Regions from separate parts of the Homo sapiens genome. Here region 1 is reported to be linked to region 2. The links are microRNA targets in miRTarBase. Many come from high-throughput screens and were not tested one by one. Region 2 holds a microRNA gene; the other region holds the end of a gene's coding sequence.

Region 1 (3,103 bases), not on the chromosome of region 2:
GCAGGAGGATCGCTTGAGCCCAGGAGTTCAAGACCAGCCTGAGCAACATAGTGAGACCCTGTCTCAAACGAAAAAAAAGGATAAAAAGGAAGGAGATCTAGACATACCTAGTGACAGAAAAGTGTTCGTGTTTTACAGTTGCAAAATAAGCTGTCATTTTGGTAAATGTATGTTAAGAATCTCTTTGGCGTGCAGGACCATGGACAGTGTCCACTGTCCTCTCTGTATAGCCTAGAATATATTACAATGAACTTCCATTACCGCTCTAATGGGAGAAGAACAACAGAAAGAAAAAATTGGTCCAGTGAGGAGCTTCAGCCCCTGGGAACTGGTTTATGGCCGAGTCTCAGTTCCTTGCCTGGCATACCACACAGCTCATGGTGGTCCATGTCTCCTGGCTCCTCTTGACTTCCTGCCTCCCTGCCTCCCTCTTCCTAGGACGCTGTTTGTGACTGTAGTACCCAGTCTCTCACCTCCTGCTTCGCCCGATCGTCCCGCTCTGCCATCCGCCACTCTCCTTCCAAGTGCAGGCTGCACCCTTCAGAGTCCAGCTGGGGTGGGGAGGAGAGGGCACTCCCCCCCAGCGAGTGACAGAGCAGCCAAGCTCCCCGCCTCAACCAGCCCAGCCCCTGGATAGCAGAAGGGAACCAGCAGAGACGAGACGAGGTGAGGCGAGGGGCTGTGTCCTCAGCATTGCCTGGCCCTGGAGGGACAGCAGTGATGCCACTGCCAGAATGCAGCTTTCACATCAAGGTAAAGCCGGGTCTCCTGCTGGCCCCTGGGTGGTGAGCTTCGACTTCCCAGGGGAAGGCAGTGAGTGGGAGAGAGACCAAACCTGGGCTTCCCAAGCATCCACTGAGAGATCTGTCAAGAGCCGATCCCTGGGTCCTAAGAGAGAGCCTTGCCTGGTTCTGCCCATGCCACCCTCTTGGAAGAGCCCAAGAAGGATACATGTCTGGCCATGCCTTTGGGGAAAAGGAGTCGGAGAGATGTTTCCTGCTGACCATCCACCCCTTCATTTGGGAGGAGACACTGCTGAGAAGAACAGGCTTTGCTCTAGGGCTCCATGTTTGGTTCCTGGTGGAGCCCTGTTGGGCATCATCACCATCACCTCCTTCTCTCCACCACCTCCTCCTCCCAGCCCCACTGCTCTAGATTGCTGGGACACTAGGGAGTATGATAGGGCAGTAGCCAGGGCCATTGCTTAGTGTCCTGGAGCCCTGGATCTCCCTGCCCATAGCCTGGATGCAGCAAGAGCTGGGAGGCGAAGTGGAAACATGCAGGGCTCAGGGTTGGGGAGTGATTGCAATTGCCTTCCTTGCCAAAGTGACTTGGGGCCCCAACGTTCCCAGCAGACCCCTTGAGGACAGAAATAGGTAGAGTCAGTCTCAAGACCTGGTGCATAGATAAATGCCTAAATACACTGCCTTGATCTCAAGTGATCTCAGAGGCCTCTTTCCCTGGCACCCTGAGAGGCAGCAGGCACTACATCTCCACTGTGTTTACATCCTGCAGCTGGTCGGGGGGCAAAGATATTCCCAGTAAGAGATTCTTGGTTGGCCAGGTCAGGCCCAGGAGAACACCAAGAGGCCAGAGCCCAGGACACAGCAGTAGACTGGGGCCTGGAAACACGTATCTTGCCTAGATTGTTTATTTGAATTTTTCCTACTATAAATATTTAAGGTGGTTTACTTTATTTTAATAATTTAATTTACCCCAAAGTCCCTAAGGTAATTTATTGGAGGTTGAAACATGCATTCTTGCCACTGGGACAACATGAGGCCTCTAACAGCACGGGCAGGCATGGGGTCCCCTGGGTGGACGAGGCCGCTTGGCAGCCAGGTTTGGAGACCTGGCCTCCTGGTCAGCTTTGGAGGGCCCCTCAACAGAGCTGGAGCCCTGCACCCCAACACGGCTGGCCATGTGGCCTCAGAACACTACTTATTACTCAATGCCTGGTACTTGGCCAGCCCCAGCGGTCAGTCTATAAATACTCACTGACAAGGTGGAGGGCTGGACGGCCATCACCACTCCCCAGACGTTCTCCATTGCCTGTCTCATTTCCCTCCCTCCCTCTGACACCTTTCTTCATGAGTCGAACGTGGATTACTAAAGCTCTATTAAGAGTGTGGAGATCCCTCCAAGTTTCCCAAATGAGAACTCACAGGAAAACAGGACTGAACTTTGAGAATGTTGTTTATCGCAGCTTTGCACATAAACCTGAGTGTCTCCCAGCCTGCCTCGGTTCTCACCAGCCTGCCAGCCTTTTCACCAGCCTCTCTCCTTAGCCTTATGGCCTTTCACGGCTCTTCTCCCTGCCCCAGCTCTGCTGCCCGCCCTTCCTCACGTCCCCTGTGAGCTGCCTGAGCCATTGGTTGGATTTCGATGTGGCTCATTGCAGCATGTGGGGCAGCGCCTCCCATGGCCTCGCCTTGGTGCCGGTGAACCCCTTTTGGTTGCACACATGCTCCCCACACACACATAGACATCAGCCTTCCTGTAACTGACTGGGGACCCAGAGTGGAAACACCAGGATGGATCAGCTTGTCTGCAGAATTGCCCATCAGGAAGACCAAAAGCCAGTAGCTTTGCTGATCTGCCCCCAGGACTCTGGAGGCGCCCCTGCACTCCCACCTCCCACCTGCCAGTTCCCAGACCCACCCATTCGGGATCACCTGGACCAGTTACCCCAAGTCCTGCATCTCCCTTCCCTGCAGGCTGAACACCAGGGTCATGCCAGTCCCGCCAGCCGCCTCCTCCATGCCCCAGTGACTGGTGTGGGCAGAGCAGGCAGCCAGTGGAGCTGTGGGCCAGTTCCGCTCTTGGATGCTGCTGCTCTCACCCATGAGGTCAGGGGGGCCCTCCAAGGTTATCTCCAGGTGAGGGGATTCACATCAGGCCACAAGCCACCAGAGGCCTTCTGCCACCTCCCAGAGCGACAGCCAGGGAGGCTGCGTACTCAGCCTCGGGGAGAAATCCCCGTGGGACCTGAGCCCCAAGACCTACGGACCACTCAGCCTTACCATCGTACCGTCCAGGATTGTCCTTGCCATCTTTGTTGTCTCAGCCAGACCTTGGTTTTCAGTAAAGCCCCAGTTTCTAC
Region 2 (3,103 bases):
GGACACACACACACACACACACACACACACACACACACACACACATCTTAAGGGAACTTCTGGCACTATGTTTTACCAAAAGGGCATGCAAAAGTTTTAGAGTCATCCAAATCTGATCAACTTTTCACCCTGGGTTCTAGTTCTGTTTACAGACTCCTCAGCTCACATTGTTGGAATGAAACAAATATAGCCAGTTTTGCTTTGATCTGTGGTCAGTTTAGCTTTTCAATCCTGGCACAATGGTGACATTTAAGAGGCAAGAGGATAAAATTATTTTCATTCCAGCGTTTTAAACAGGATAAAGACTTATAAAACAGCTCTGGCCAAATATGAATTTGGACCTAAACAGGCGATCTCTTTTTTATAAGAAGTCCTTCTTACACTGCTGGATATAAATAGAAGTATAAATAGTTAGGCAGTTAAACACATCCATTCTGATTTATCAGTCCTTATCTTCAGAAGCAAAATTATTGGGGAAATTGGGGGAGGAAGAATTGCAACAAAGGAAAACCCAAAAACCCAAATCACGGTGAAATTGGTCCTGTAAACACATCTGCCACTTTCCAGAAAATATCATAATAACTTTGAAAACAATTAGGCTTACAGAAAACAAAACAAACCCTTGTTTATCTCTTTACTCATCACTCAACAGTAAGTTGTTCCAATCACTCAAATTCTTGCTGCCTCACCTGTAAGCTCAGCCTTCTAATTTGACAGCAGAGACCAGTTACAAGAGATATGGGAATTGAGGGCCAGCCTATTAATTCATCATTGAAGAACCTCATTCATTTCAGGACAAAAGGTCTCCTTCCTCCACCTCAGCCCCCTTTTCCATTTTTATCACTCTTAAAGGAAACTAAGGGGAAGAGAAGGAGAATGAAATAACTCGAAGGGATATTGAATGGCATATAAGCAAAGCCCCAGGTCCGTGAGATTGCCTAACAGACACATACCTATAGATACAAGCTTGTGCGGACTAATACCACAAGTTCGGATCTACGGGTTTGTGGCAACAGGCCTCAATATCTTCTCTCTTTTGGGGCTGTGACATGTCTGAAAATAAAATATTACAACCATTAATCCAATAAAAGAGTCTACCATTCAATTGTTTTATGCCATAAATGGAAAGGACTTCGTCCCACTCTCACAAAAGCAAAAGTTAAGCAATATCTTCTATGTTCTCCCCAACGTGCTTCCCTTGGTTTCCACTTTTTCCACAAATCCAGTGGACTTTAGGTAAACCTCATCATTTTACTGTTTATATATGGAAGACTCATTTATTCACTGCTGAACACATAATCTGGGCAAAGTGATACCAAAATGGCAAACCAGCAGAATAAAGAAAATTCTTTAAATTGTAGGCAGAGAGAAAGAACACATGAGAGCCCAAATGCAAGTCCATTCCTTTAAATACCTGTCATTACATTAAAAATGATGGTGAAATTTTCATTTTCCTATTTGCATTCTGGAAAACAACTAGAATAAACTTAGCAAGTACTACCAACGGATTTATAGGTATATTTTTTTTTTTTTTGAAAACCACTCTAGAGTAGATTTTCAGGTATATTAAGATCCATCTTCGGGAAAAGTTTGCATTTTTGTTCCCACCCCCATCCCATCCCCACACTTATTATTGATTCAAACACCAACAATGAGCAAGTTTGGGTGTACTCTGTAAAATTTGAACCATAGAAGAAATTACATAGTTGTTCCTCCTTCCCCCCGCACCCCCCGCCCCCCGCAATACTGTTTGAAAAAACAGGGATGAATCTGTTTCAGAGACCTTCTTATAAAATGATTGCATTTGTCAACATAACATTTTTTTTCTGCAAAGCCAATGTTCTACATATAAGAAGGGAACATCCAAGACAATGGACTTTCATTAACGACGCCTTTTGTGAATTGTATTGAAGACAGGCATAATCATAAGCACTTCAGGGACATATATTATACAGCTAAATAACTCCCTGTCCTAGATGCTGGGAAACACACATGACTCCATCCCTTTACAGGACCTAAAAAGAGACCTTTTTAACTTTTGTTAGCTATAATTATGGATCCTGGCTCTCAAAATAATTATCTCATTTGCCTCAAAAAATGGACATTCACTCCTTTCTCAAGAATCTGGGGCCAGGCACTGGTGGCTCATGTGTGTAATCCCAGCACTTTGGGAGCCCAAGGCTGGCAGATCACTTGAGGTCAGGAGTTCAAGACCAGCCTGGCCAACAGGGTGAAACCCTGTCTCTACTAAAAATACAAAAAAATTAGCTGGGCATGGTGGCGTGCGCCTGTAATCCCAGCTACTCTGGAGGCTGAGGCATGAGAGTTGCTTGAGCCTGGGAGGCAGAGGTTGCAATGAGCCGAGATTGTGCCACTGCACTCCAGCCTAGGCAACAGAGTGAGATTTTGTCTCAAAAAAAAAAAAAAAAAAAAAAAAAAAGAATCTGGGAGATGAACTGAAGCCCTACCAAGGGGAACAAAAAAAGACAGAGCTGAATTGAGGAATTATTCAGAGAAAAGAGCAGGCCCTCGTGTATGCAACCTAAAAAGTTAAATAAAGAGAACAGGAAACCAACAGTACGATGAACAGAAACTGAGACATAACCATTCATAGATACTTTGTTGTTTCCCCATCTCATCACAAGTGAGCTGTGGTACAATTGCTCAGAGCCTGCTGGTGCTGTGAAGGTTGGCAAAACTGAGAATCTAGTTGTAGCTCTGTGGCTTAATTTTCAGATCCAAAGAAATAACAATAGCAAGTGGAAGTAAGTAGTATCCAAATCAGTCACCCCCAGATGGTCTTTATTTATTTTATTTTAAAATGTTCATTTCCTTTCTAAAATAAAAGACTTTTAAATAAGCTCTGAGCTGCTTCTTTTCCTTCCGTCTCTCTGACAAAGGCATGGGGCTAGAGGTATTTGAGGATGGCCACTTTGAACCCTGTTAAATATTGCTGGAATGTGGGGGATGTAGGTGCTCCTATTATAATGGAGCAGAATAAGCCCAACGTCCCAGAGTAATGAGAATGAATTGTTATCATCACGCTTACTAGAACGATACAATATTTGTTAGCGATAGACTAAGATCTATCAAAGTGGTACAC

Evidence for each region. The annotated mature microRNA hsa-miR-100-5p reads AACCCGUAGAUCCGAACUUGUG and lies in region 2 at 984-1,005, opposite strand. An mRNA with a match to its seed (bases 2 to 7 or 8) in the 3' UTR can be bound and repressed. Matches are read on the target gene's strand: a 7mer-m8 pairs with bases 2 to 8, a 7mer-A1 pairs with bases 2 to 7 and ends in A, and an 8mer does both.
Region 1: the mRNA of MTCL2 is a reported target of hsa-miR-100-5p. The part of its 3' UTR that is shown has no 7-base or 8-base seed match.

What each region holds. Positions count from the first base shown.
Region 1 is chr20:36,783,973-36,787,075 of GRCh38, reverse strand. It overlaps MTCL2 (microtubule crosslinking factor 2), which reads left to right. Exons shown (of 15, transcript NM_080627.4): 15 at 439-3,103. The coding sequence ends at 591. Among named protein-coding and RNA genes, the nearest start is that of DSN1, 12 kb to the right of the region's middle.
Region 2 is chr11:122,151,292-122,154,394 of GRCh38, forward strand. MIR100 (microRNA 100) reads right to left here and starts at 1,017; the gene lies at 938-1,017. The region is part of intron 4 of MIR100HG (mir-100-let-7a-2-mir-125b-1 cluster host gene); the gene reads right to left. MIR10526 (microRNA 10526) reads right to left here and starts at 865; the gene lies at 812-865.